Linked DNA regions of Homo sapiens. The protein of the gene in region 2 interacts with the protein of the main gene of each other region in a pairwise test. Each region holds a gene or a part of one and is shown on either strand. Other genes may lie near its edges.

Region 1 (7,036 bases), about 57 Mb from region 2:
GGTGAGGATATTGACCTGATATAATATATTTTTTAATGTTACTCTGTAATATTTTCTTTGTTAGCAAAGTTTTGTTTTGTCTGCAAATGGAAATGTAATTTGTTGATATATACACATACATTAAAAAATGTTGATTCAGTTGTTTTTACTAGAAAGAAGACAGAAAAGGCCTACCATTGTTTAGAAACATTTGTTGAAATTACTAATTAATATAGGTTCATAAGCATGCATTGCTTTTTAACCAGCTCATATATGTGGGTAATAATACATTTGTATCTTACTAATAAAATTAACATATGAGGGTCACAGTTCATACAATACTAATTTATAACTGAAATAGTTTGATTTGTATTATAGTCAAGATGGTATGTATATGTGCATAAAGATTTTAAAAGTGGAATCACAATTATAATGCATATGACTAATGGGAAGAACTGAAGAACTAATCCTAAATTGATTTCTTGTTTCTTTTATTCTGAGTTAATTATATGTCTGCCAATAACAATGAAAATATATTTACTTGAATATTTGACTTGGCATTTATTGACCCATTTATCAAACAGTAGCAGCACAAGGAGAAACTATTAATAGAACATAATTTGAATAGAGCAGTGCTTGAGCTATTGTACAGTCATACATTCAGAAAATTTGGGGGGCATTTATTTTGGATGTTGTTTCTGGTCAATAAATGTATTTGGGAAGTACAGTATTCATTTTTTTTCTTTTATGTAAAACCCGGATAGCATGTAATTAGAACTTGAATGATAGCATTTGCCTTGCAGGGCTCAATGAGTCTTTTAAAATATATGGTTGCAAAAGTCTCAGGTTATATAGTATGAGTACTTTATGAATTGGACAGCTACACTATGCCTGGTTAGGTTTGGTAATATGAAAACAGAAAAATGAGAACATGCCCTGGATTTGCATTCATGCTTACCAATACATCCAAAACTTCTGATAGTTAAGGAAAAGTTGTATAGTATTGATGACAGGGCAAACCAAAATTAAGGACTGACAGAACATTGGTAGTTTCTTTTAAACATCTAAAAGAGCTTCTTCTATTTTTAAAAATGGCATATAATTAAAATTTTGACATTTAATTTTTATAAACATATTACATAAAACTCAATATAATGCCATATTCCCTTAAGAGGGAGTAAATGGAGGAAAATCTGAGGCTATTTTGTGAATATTTTGTTTATTTTTTCTGTTTCCAATTTTAACTTGTGTAAACACCATAACAATAATAAAAGAATATTTCATGAATTTTTAAAGGAAAATTGTATTGAAATTAAAAAGTAACTTAAGGTGGCCCCATTTACTTCTTTACCTCAATATGTATGTGTTCTTTTATTTTAATTGGTAAAAGTTAGGAAACCTCCAGAACAGCAGGCAAAGTCATATCCTTTAGTACTGTATTACCTAATTGGAGAAAGAACAAAATCACAAATTATTATCATTTATAGTATTGAAATGGAGTTTTGTAATTGGAGTGCTTTTTTCTTTCTTTACACTTAATCAAAAAAATTTAGATCCTACCAATATTTAATTTTATAGTTGGCAATTATTCATTCAACAAACATTCATTGAGCAACTGCTAAATCACACTATGAATACTTGGCAAATAAATTATATAACACCTTCCTTCCTGAATTACAGGATTGACATCAAGCAATTTCAACTATATAAACCTAACTGTAAACTCAAAATTTTTGAAGTTCTCATTTAAAGAAAAAATTTGTTTCCATTTTCTCTATGAAATTCTATAAAGAAAGCCTTATCATGTTTGTCATGAGTAATTATCCAAAACTTGGAAATAGGCAAAAAAGGTCACTGAGTGTCCTTTGAGTATTGTATTAGACATTGTCCAGTAGCTCACCTTCCTGAGGACAGTCAGGTTTATGGGGGTGTGAACCTTTGTAATGGGCTGTTTTTTCTTGGATATGCCAATCATTCTTTGACCCCAGGGCCTTTGCACTTGCTGTTTCCTCTGCTTGAAATGCTGATTCCATTAGCTGTTATTCTGTCATGCACGCTCACTTCATTTAGATCTCTCCCAGTAGAATCATGTGGGACTTTTAGTGCTAACACTAGGACAGCCCCATGCAAATCTTGATGGTTGGTTAGCCTAAGTCTCTGCTCAGTTGTCACCTTAGAGCATTATTCTTAAAGTGTGATCTCTGAGTTCAAAGGGGTCCCCAAGACACTTTCAGGGAGTTTGTAAGGTCAAGCTATTTTTATGATAATACTATACAAAGGTACCATTTGCCATCTTCTCTATGTTAATGCACACATTGACAGTGCAAAAGCAGCAGTGAGTAAAACTCTTAGCACCTTAACACAAATCGAGGTGGTGGCACCAAACTGTACTAGTAGTCATCTCGTATTCTTCACTGCCATGCACTCTCAGTAAGAAAACAAAAACCGCTAGTTTTACTTAATGTTTTGATTGAAGTGTCAAAAATATTAATTTTATTGGAACTGATCATTGAGTATATTCATTTTCAATATTGTGTACGATCACATGGGTGGTACATCTAAAGTACTTTTATATTCCGAAGTGCCACGATTGTCTCAAGAGAGAGCATGTGTGCAGTTGTTTGAGATGCAGTATGAGCTAGCTATTCTTTTTCTGAAACGCCATTTTTACTTAGATAATTGACAGTCAAGTTGTAGTTATTTAGATTTGGGTGTTTGGCAAAATTTTCTGAAAAATAAATGAAGTAAGCCTAAAATGTCAAGGCAAACATCTGACATTCTTCTTATTATTTTGCCAATGATAATATGCAAGCTTTCAAACAAAAATTAGAATTTTGGAGGATTCCTATCTATCTTGGCAGCTTGGCAGCTTCCTGGTACTTAAAGATTTTTCTGGTGAGTTCGTTAGTGATATTAATGAATATGAATGTTACTTTTGAAGCAGTATGTTTCAAGATGTTTCAGAATGTTACTTTTCAAAGCATATTATGAAATATATCAACATTTGGAGGATCTGCATAATTCAGGGAAGCAGTAAGTAATGCATAAAGTTACAAAACTGTGCATAGATAAAAGGTAGACTCAAAGTGCAATGTAGACCAATGGATTTTATTATAACATAGAATGAAAAGTTCATTGAAACGGCTTCAGATTCCACATTGCAACTAACCTTTAAGGAGCTACCACATGGTGAATTTTGATATAGTATCAAAGAAGAATATGCACAATCATTTCCAACTACATATCTGTGCACTCCGTATTCTCCAACTGAAAAACGTATTACAAAAGATTGAGTAGAAGCAGATATGAGAGTCCAGCTATCTTCTTTTTTAATTTTTTGTTTTTATTTATTTATTTTTAAGAGACAGAGTCTCACTCTGTTACCCAGATTGGAGCTCAGTGGCACAACAACAGTTCACTGCAACCTCAAACTCCTGGCCTCAAGTGATCCTTCTGCTTCAGCTTCCTGAGTAGCTGGGACTACAGGCCTCTGCCACCCTACCTGGCTAATTTAAAAAATATATTGTTTTCTAGAGACAGGGTCTTGCTATTTTGCCCAGGCTAGTTTTGAACTCCTGGCCTCAGGTGATCCTCCCACTTTGGTCTCTCAAAGTTCTGAAATTACAGGCGTGAACCACCAAACCTGGTCTCAGCTGTCTTCCATTAAGCCAGATGTTAATGAGATTTGTAAAAAATCTATATGCAACTCCTTTTTCTAATTTGTTTTTGTTTTGGAAAGTCATTTTTCAATACAAATGTGGTATTTAAAATGCAATAGGATTATTGTTATTAAATTAATGTTTAAAAATTTTTCAGTTTTAATTTTGATACAGAAAATATTTCTAGATATAATTCATGAAAACAATCAAACAAAAAGAAATTCTCAATAATTTTTTAGACTATGAAGAGGTCAAAAGACCCAAAAATTTGAGGCCCCCTCTCTGTAGAGGCCCCTCCCTGACCTCCCTATATAAAATAGCATTACCATCTCTCCCTGTCTCTATGCTGTGTGATATGTACCACCTCTTGGCATATTTTATATTGATCTGTTTATTATTTGTCTCCCTCCAGTGGAATGTAAGCTCCACAAGGGATAGAAATTAATCTATTTTGTTCATTGCTGTTATTCCCAGCATCTAGAACAGTGCCTGAATAATAGTAGGTATTAAACAGACATTTAGTGAGTGAATAAGTTAAAATTTTTCTCATAGAATCCTGTTTTCTATTTTCCTCTGCCTTGAATTCTACTTGTTTGATTTGATGCCTTTCTTACATGGTGGTAGATTTTCTTATTAACTTTAAGATTTATTATTGATTTTATTTTATTGAACTTATCTTTAGAAGAACTTATCTCTCCTGGCTGTTCGACATATTCCTTTGATAGAAAAGATGTCCCTAAGAAGCAGTTTCACCCCTGCTGCCAGGGCCTCACAGGTTTCCCCTGTTAAGGACCAGTTTTTATGTTAAATTCTGAGCTCAAGATTTCTGCACTGTATGGATAAGAGAATCTCAGGGTTCAAATTCTCAGGATATGACTCGTTTTCCACTCATGGCTCAATGGGATATAGCTCACTTATACACTGCATCTCTAGGGCAACAGGTGGAGTTTTTTATCCATCTTTCGTAACTGGCATAGATATTTCTCAATTCCTGGCAGTACAATGAGTCCAACCCTGGCTCTCTTTGCCTGTGATTTTTGTTCTTATGTGGGCATTTAAAGCCTAATCCCTAATGCCTGTATCCTTTCTGAAAGATGCTCCTGTGGGCTTGAATTTTATCACCATCCTTACACTGAGCTGTCTATTTGTTTCTTGCATGAAGATTTCCCTCCTCCTTTTGGCTTAGCTATGTAAATGATAAATATTTTAAATGTAGTTAGATTTTATCTAGCATTTCTCTTTGTTTGGAGTAGAAAGTAAGTCCTTTCTACTTTTGCTTTTACTGCCATATTAACCATAATTCTGCACTATAAAACTCTTCAATGCCTCACGTTGTCATTCTTGAGTTCTTATTTTTTTATTTGTTTTTTGATGAGTCTGTAATTGTAATTTTGTAGGAGGAAGTTGTGAATGACAGATCTTCTAAGCTATTAATATCTGAAATTTCTGTTATCTTCACACTTGCATGGAAACTTGTCTGTACAGAATTATTGAGTCAAACCTTTTTTTACAACATTTTGTGGATCTAGCACTATTATATTCTGAAATTTATTAATGCAGAAGAGAAGTATTGAAGTCAACCTGGTTTTTAAAAATCCTATTTTAAGGTAACCTGTTAGGTTTTGTTTTCTTCCCTGATTGCTTTTATGATTTTAAACAATCTATAATTCCAAATTTGGTACAGATATGGTTTTTTTTTTCTGGAACAAGGGTGAGCCTTCCATTTTAACCTCAGCTATTATTTCATAGAGTTTGTTTTCAATACACCCATTTCTTATAATTTAGAAGAGCTTTATTCTCTTTTCTCTGAATTGAATCCTCAGAAGTCTGGGAAAACTTTGTATCCTTTACATCCCTAATTCTATTTTTTGCAGTATTAGTTTTAGTTATTTAATGCTCTCTGCAAATTTAAATCATGTGTTGTCTTCTCTTTTTTAACACTCTAATTTTTAAAAATTTCAGCTTGTTCTGTTTTTATCTTTCTCTGCTATGTCCTTCCTTGCTCTTGTTTTCTAGTGGACATGTCTTTGTTTGCATCCTTTTAAGAACAGTAAGTAATTGATTACAATTTTTTTTTCATCCTGTGCTCTTCACTGTAATCTTTTGGATAATTCTCTTTATCTCTTCTGTTAACAGTATTTTTCATAGGGTTCATGTTGTTATTCTGTGAGATTTGTTCAGACCTGCAATTTGCCTATAAATACAATATATAAATTGTTTTTTGTCCTGTTCTCATTTTCTTGAATACTGGAAGAATCAACTACTTTCTTAGAGCTAAAGCTGATTGACAAGCTGATGTGAGTACCCCCAGCCCAATTTCTAGTGTTCTTGTAGTGTAGCTTTATTGCCTGAGATATGATTATTTCTTGCACATGTGCCAAGTTTTCTTATTTGTTGAGGAAGATGTATGTTTTAAAGAATGTGTGACATTTTATAGTTCTTCCATTAAAAGCAGTGCATGAATAAACACTACCTCAGCATCCCTTTGTTTTGTATCCTAAGATGTGTGGTGATAGGTAAGGTAAGGTACTGCCACCTGAGTTGTCAAATAACACAGAAGTTATCTTACTTTAAAGTTGCTCCCCAGGAAGAGTCTTTCAGATTAAAACGTATCAGTACAAGATGTTCTTGACCGGTCAGTATTTGTGCTTTGCTGGTCTTTCCCTAATCAGATTACTGTCTCGCTGAGATGAGCAGCTTTGGAGGAATAGGAGTTTTATTTGAGGAAAAGAGGAAGAATAATTTTGCAGTTTAGGGGTTATTTTGAAAAGAGTTGACTGTGGACTTTGGAACAGGAGGTGAGTTCTGAAAAGGTGAGTGGGAAGGATCAAAGGCAACTGGCGACTTACAGCTGTACCTGTGATCTGATGCTGATAGGAAGAATTTCTCGTGTAGGCTTTGTTGCATATATGGTCTCATGGATTGTTATTGCCTGAATTCATATTTCAAGATAAGTTAAAAGGCTGTATACCTCAGTTTCCTTTGTTCAGATGAGTTCCACAGTTTCAAATGTAGTCTAATTTCTTCTGGTTAAAAATTCCTCCCAAGAGAGATAGAGGAAGGAAAGGGAGAGATGGGACCACCACAGTGAGCAAATGGATCAGATTATTACTCTAAAATGTTCTTTTCGTTCTGAGCTCCCGCTCCTCCCCGTCTTTACTAAGATTTCTCGCTTATGTTCCTACTGGAAAAGTGGGTTTTATTCCTGGGAAATTCTGAGGCCTTCTACCATTATATTTGGTGAACATGCAGTAGATTACTTTTCAAAATTAAGATAGTTTGATTGTTTTAACTCTTTATAAAAGTAGTGTTTATTTATTGCAAATTATTCCAAAAATAGAAATTGGCAAAAAGCAGAGTGAAAATCACCTATAATTCCACCACACGGTTAACATTTT
Region 2 (7,227 bases):
CAGGAGCTCAGTTACTGACCACTCAGATAATAAGGACTCTTGATATGCTGTCCTCATTGGAGCTGGTGAAGAAATAGATTAGGGGACAGGGATGGGAAGAAGTTTTTTTTTTTTTCTTTTTTTGTGGAAAAAAAATTATCTCTTCAGGCAAGAGTCCTCTCTTTCACAAGGAAGCCTGGTCATTCCCAAGGGTACTGACAGGAAGCTACAAGTCACTCTGTCCAGGCCAATAGAGCAGGCCTCTGTTGATTTCCTGGCATTGTAAAGATTCTGGCTTCTTGCCCCAGCATCTTGCAGAAAGTGATTTCTCAGAATTGTCTGTTCCTCCAGGGATGCGCAAGTATTTTAAATTGAAGAGTTGTAAACTGAGCACAAAGCCAATCTGGATGAAACCCATTTCATCCGGAGCAGCCCATCCGCATTTAGTAAAGTTTTAAATTTTATTGTTCTTAAAAAAAAAAAAAGCTGTGTAAACACTGCGCCATCATAGGAAGTAGAAAGAAAATATCATCTGTAAGCCTCCTCTTCAAGCACAGTGGCATTGTTCATCTTGTCTCAAGCTTTGTTTATATATTCTTATTTATTATAATAATACTAATGAAAATAAGGATAATTAGCAGCATTTATTTACTATTTTTTAAATTTGTCAGGCATGTCATTTAATTTAATCTTCATAAGAACCCATAAAATAGGTCATTATTATCTTTATTTTACAGATGAGAAAATTGAGGCAAAAGAGGTTGTTCATGTTTAAACTATTAGTAAGCGGTGGGTCTTGAGTCTTGGCAAATCTGGAAATTTCTTTCTTGACCTCTACACTGTTGCTTTATATTTTGCATATAGTCAAGTCAATACATTAGAATTAACAATTTTACAATTAAACTAAACTATTGGTATTAGATCTGATATTCAGATATTGGTTTTAGAGCACTGATAGAAAAATGAGCATTTAAAATTGAGCACTTTTAACATGTTAAGTGAATTAACCATATTCAAATCTAGCATCTTCATTTTTCCTTTATTTTACTTATATTGTATACAATAGAATTGTACATATAATATACATTATGTATTTTACATATATAAATATGCAATATATTTATATTAAAAATGTTATGATGTCAGGGACTGTGTCTGTCTTATTCATAACTATGGGATAGTGATAAGCATGTAGAATCATTTGTTCATTCATTCGTTTAATAAATATACCACTTAATTCCCTTTGCATTTTTTTCCTGATATATTCAGGAGTTATTTTCTCAAAATTCCTAGTTATACATGATGCTAATTGATGATATATTTAACAAAAAATTATTTTGGTCTTCAATGAATTTGAGGAACACTGTTAAAAACAGATGAAAAACTTCTCTTTGCTACCTAATGTGCATTGTGAATTTATAATATGCATCTTTTCCAAAACTTATTTTTGACCATGTAACTTTTAAAACATTTTCCTGGATTTTCTGGAGACTAGAATTTCACTGCCACTTGGGAAATACTGGCCTAGAACTTACTTCTTCATAAACTCAATATTAATTTTTCTGCTCCCCTTTTCAAACCCTCCTGGAATTGTTCTTTAGTAAAGCTGAGGGTCTCCAAAATAATCATATGTTGTACGATATTCATCAGTATTGTCCTATTCCAAGTTGAACAGTACAAAACATCATAAAAGCCAATTAAAAAGCCACTTACAAAGACAATTTCTAAACCTGATTTAAGATGAAAACAAATGTCATAAGAATTAATTGAGAAGTAAAAATTAAAATGGTTGATTTTGTTATATACTGCCAAATAATGTTTTTTCAGGGATGTTTTGGTTTTTATCCATAATCAACTGTATCAACCAGTTGTTTTCATTGTATGTGGGTACTGCCTAAAACCTAATTTTGGTCCTTCCTATTCACGAGTTGCTGAGAATTTTTATTTCTTTTCCTTGGACATTATTGAATACTTGCATTTATTGGGTACATTTGTTATTTCATTTTATTTTCAAAGGGCCCAATTCATTTCATAGAATGAAAAAAAAACAGTATTTGGCAGTATATAAGAAAATCAACCATTTAATTAAGGTTGTTCTTAATTAAATGTCCAAGTCCTATTTCAAATTAAAAGCATTGAACATTTCCATTACAAGTGGATCACTGGGAGTATTTATAGGAGAAAAGTGTGATCTTTCTCCACACTGGAACACTTGGAATAAACACCATAGTCAATGAGTACAAGGGGTTTCTGGAAATTAACAACCATATGGGAAATTAACAACCATGTAATCTATGAAACCATAAGTCAGTCAGAAGGCTGAATATAGACTTACCTTCATCAGTCTGAATAAACAAAGAACAGATCTCACTTTGAAATGGCTAAATAATGAATACAGTGAAGCAGCGATGTCTCTTACTCCTGAACCTAGCTCAAATGAAATAGTAGGTGGCTTCGGAACAAATATGTACTGTATAGTTATACATACAAAGGATTAATATTCCTGAACTTATTTTAGTCCATAGAATTCAGTCTAAGACCATATTAGGTTTTTATTTAGCTGATTTTAAAAATATTTGGAGAGAGGAAAGCAAAATTGCAAAGAACCTTAATGAAACCTGTTTTTCTTTGAAAACTCAATTTTTATTTTTCAAGGTATAAATTTAAAAAGTTAAAATACAACTCTCATACAAACATAGGCAGGCAGCAGAGATCTATTCACTTATTAATGGGGAAAACTGTAAGATGATGAAGCTGGTTCCAAAAGCATTTTGAGGATCTGTGGATTTACAGGTATTTAGAAAGAAAGTTTGGTTAGATGCAAAATGATTATTTGGTTAGATGCAAAATTGGTTATCTTCCTATATTGCAATAAAATCATAAACGCTGCGATTATCTTTTTCTCTGAACAGGCTGAATAAAATGTGCAAGTGACCACAGAACTTCACTGTGGCTGGAATCTAATCAATAGTGAAGAGCAAAGCCAAACACAACTGGAGAATTAACTGGCCCCTGGGTGGACTTGTTAACCGATGTCTCAGTTTGACATTGAAAGGTCATGCTCTTCCCCATTATTTCCAAGTTTTGGTAAAGTTTTTAATTGCCCAATTAGAAAAATTATGAGTTTTTTGTTGTTATGTTAACTCATTAACTTACATAGGTTTGGACTAAAAACCACTATCCTAGCTGCTTCTGGGAGTAGAAAGATTAAAAAGGGGGATGGGAATCTTATTTCAAAATTCAAATAAAATAATTCAAATTCAAATAAGAATCTTTAATAGATGCTACATCCCATATCCAGGTCAACATGGCAGGAGAAATGAACAATACAAAGAGGGCAGAACAAATATCCCCAAGGGAAAGAAGCCAGTGGGGGGACTGACAGTCTTTCCTTTCCCTAACAAGGCTGCCTTTATTCAAAGGGATAGCGTTTGCGGATTCCGTCTCTCCATCCTTTGTAAAGGTGCTAGCTAGGGAGCTGAGCTCAAGCGGGCTGCTCTAGGCATAGCAAGCCCCACCCCTTGCACGGTGTCCTAATCACCAGCTAACCCCTGGAATAAATTCTCCACTCGCCCTGCGTGGGTTCATTCACAGCTCTGTAGTCCGGGGCTGGGCGCTTCCTCTCTGGGACTGAAATAAGAGCGCTCTAGACAGATCAGGTGTGATGCAGCCAGCCCTGCTTTAGAGCCTATTCTTTTTCCTAGGCAACAAAAAACACACACACAAAATAAAACACCAAACAGCAGCAATATCCCCCTCCCCCTTCTTGTTCTCTCCTGACTTTTTCTGAACGATGGATGAATCTCTGCGAGCCTCCATCCCTGGGGGTGGGGTGGGAGTGTGGGGGGTTGGGGTGAGCTCTGTAAAATTGGTAGGAGACATGTGGAAGAAAGCAAGTCTCCCGGGTATTTCAGCACTTCGGCAGAAACACTGGGGCATTCTCATTGCCAGCCTCGGGGGGTGGCTGGCACAAAGAGCCCAAGATTAAACGCGGCGCCTGGGCTGGCGAGGTCGGGGTCGTGTGGTAACTCTCCAGGTGCTCCTCGCTGGATCCCGGGGTCCCAGCCCCGCCGCCGCGCCCCGCCCAGCTCTGTCCCCGCAGCCTCGCGGGCTGCCGGGCTTTGTGGTTCGCCCGTGCCGCTGGGCCCCTGCTGGGGGTGTCGTTACGAGCATGTGCAGACAGCAGCCCAAGGTAGAGCGAGCGTGCCGGGCGAGCCCGGAGACTTGCCTTGCAATGCCATGTTTGTGTATGTGCTCTAACTCCCGGAGAGCAATCAGGGAGACGGCTCCCCGGCCAGACTTGGCTGATGTTTTCTTGTTTCTGTTTCAGCCTTCAGGATAATTCCTTCAGCAGCACCACTGTAACAGAGTAAGTGATTCTTACCATTAAAATTAGACTTGCATGCCTTTCTCTGGAAGCAACTATCGTGAAGGTATCCTCCACCGTTCCCAGCCGCTGTTCGTTTTAGATGCATTGTCTCCCGGAATCTGGGGCTGTGAAGACCGTGAGACGTGCTGACTGGTGGGGCCCAGAAATCTTTACAGGTTGAAACCAGCATTTTAGCAGCTGCGGGAGAGAAATTAAAACCAGCTGATTGCTTGCAGGAGCTCAGTGCTCCAAGATATGTGTTCTTGGAGCTCAGATTTTTAAAAATCCATTTGATGTGTTAGGAAGCTTTGTTGTATTTTGCCAACATTGGTGTCAGTTTTCATGGAGTGCACACTATATACATTTACAGCAATAGAAGATAGATGTGAAATGAGCTGAATTCCAGCATGTGGTAAACAGGCTAAACTTATCTTGGCCCTCTCTTGTCTACAGATTTTTAAGGCATATCAGAGTAAACTTTTTGTGCATGCCCTTTGTCATGTTTGTCTTCTGACTACAGAGATGTGACTATGGGACGAATGAGTCACCTAGTCCTATGGTTAAAGCTGTTGATTAGGGCAACTAACACCCTTCAAACATGGAATGAAGGAGTGTGAATGAAGGAGCGTACCAGCAAGCACAGTATTTTTTTAAAGATATTTATATGCTATAGTTTTAATTTTTGACATCCCTTCCTTAATGTTTTCCTAATATTATACTATATTTGTTAAAAATTAACAGGTAGTGTATTTTGCTAATACTGTATGTAATTTATATATACATATATATATATGAATATGTACTTCATCTAGCATTCTTTCTCTAGGCTAATTCATGATGTTTACTTCTGGGACCTTTGTAGAAGCCACTCTAAACATCTTTTCAGGAAAAAGGCATGTGTAAAGTTGTATCCTCAACTACATTTAAAAAATGTTATGAGTTTGATGTAGAAGGCTTAACTAACTGGGGAGCTGTTTGCTAAAATTCCCTAAAAAGCAAATAAATGTTTTGCTTTTGGCTTCCAAGTCCTGCCACTATCACAATGACTTGGTGAGGGAGGGATAAGGTTTACAGTGCTTCCTAGGCCCTCTTGTTTTCCACATTCTTTTGTTTCTCTCTTTTGCTGTGCTGCTCCTTTAGTGTCCAGTTTTGAGCAGACTTAAGTGGAGTCACTTAAAAAAAAAAACAGGATTGACTTTAGAAGAAGCAATGTAAAATACTCATTTGGACCCACATTCTGTTTATAAGATTGCTTGGTAACCTGTGCTGCAATGTTGCTTTTCTAAAGGCCTGAGAGAAGGGGAGAGAGGTGTGCCAAAGTGTGCATCTGCAGGCCGAAGATGAGGCCTGGACTTCCTGCTCCAGGTGCACAGGTACTGCTCTCCTCCCTTTGCTGTGCTTAAAGTACTAAGTGCTTTCTGGCCCCGATTCTCAGGAGCCTGGTGTGGCCAAATCCTCGGTCAGTCACAGGCACGGCAGGTTCAAAATGGAGACACTTAGCTCCAGATTTCACGTGGACTTTTTTTTTTTTTTTTTTTTTTTTTTCTGTAGAGGTTTCGTGGTTAAATGCTGGGGAGAGCCTGGTGCCTTGTCTTTGGACACTCCCCAAGGAGTTCTGATTGCATAAGATCATGTTTTTACTTTCAGAGGAGTGACAGTGATTTATTTTAAAAGGCACTGAGAGATAATTGGTATGCCATTTGGCTAATATAAAAATCTAAGGAGCCTATTGAGAACATACCAAAAGCTTCATAGGTATAACACATCATTGACTAGGACTGTTTAAAACTAGTCATTGCCACAATAACATTTTCCCCTCACCTCAGTAATATGACCCATATCCCGTGCTTCTCTGGGCATGACCCCATAGCCCTCAGGACCAAGGTGCTATATCCTGAGACACAGACATAGCAGGTTCTCAGGAAATGTTTGGGTGTGGTCTTGGCCTACACGGAGGAGGGACTTTTCTCCCCTCTATGTTCTGGATACAAGAAGAGCTCCTCTGCCTCCTGTCCCCACCCCATTCCTACATCCTTCTACTCACACCCACTTATTTTCTTCGATGCCTGAAATTTCACCTAGAGATGATTTCTTTGGATGAAGGCCTCTGGTAGTGACCCTTATTAAATTGGAAATTAAAAAGTTTGTGCCCTTGGGAAGTGGATTCAAATTGTCATGAATACTTTAATATGAATTATTTTACCTAACCTATTTTCTAACCTGTTATGGTTATGGTTATGCTTGGCCAGCTGGGAGTCCTAGAAGAGTCAAGGGGAAAGGGAAATTGGGAGGGACTCAAGGACAGATTTTATTTTCTTCTTGGTTTTTCCCAGCCCTGGCACTATCTATGCAGCTCTAGACAAATTCAATTTCTTTTTCCACCCCAATGTTTTCATCACAATGGCCTTGGCCTTTTCTTCCCTATCTGTGGCACCTTTTCATCTAATATTTTTCCATGGTCAATCGTGACATTGCCCCAGCTAACTTGCTATTTTAAATGAAGCCTGCAATAATTCTGATTAGTTATCATTCAAACCAGTGGTTCTCAAAGCTAACTGATCATCAATATCAACTGGGGAAGGGGACTGGAGCTTGTGAAAATTGCAGTCTCCCAGGTTTTATCTCAAAGTGGGAACCCAGAATGGGTGATTGTATTGGTGTCAGGACAGTGCTGTTTTGGGGTTTGGAAACCTTTAGGTCAGTGTTAAATGTTTAGAAACATAGTAGTTCTATAGGTAGGCAGTCTGTTTTAAAAATCCACATTCCTGGGCTCTGCCCTCAGAGAGTTGATGTAGTGGGGCTGGAGACTTCTGTTTTGACCAGGTACTTCAGGTAGTGCTAATGCAAGGGGCCACATTTTGAGAAAGCCCACAGGAGGC

What was found. Proteins that work in one complex are often made in the same cells at the same time.
Region 1: the proteins of FAM13C (region 2) and CCDC172 interact in binary tests that used the Homo sapiens proteins (3 or more experiments, as listed by UniProt).

What each region holds. Positions count from the first base shown.
Region 1 is NC_000010.11:116,327,412-116,334,447, forward strand, and holds part of CCDC172 (coiled-coil domain-containing protein 172), read left to right. Parts: intron 1-7,036.
Region 2 is NC_000010.11:59,359,520-59,366,746, reverse strand, and holds the start of FAM13C (protein FAM13C), read left to right. Parts: upstream 1-4,197; 5' UTR 4,198-4,286; coding exon 4,287-4,348; intron 4,349-4,363; exon of another isoform or gene 4,364-4,848; intron 4,849-5,636; exon of another isoform or gene 5,637-5,721; intron 5,722-7,227.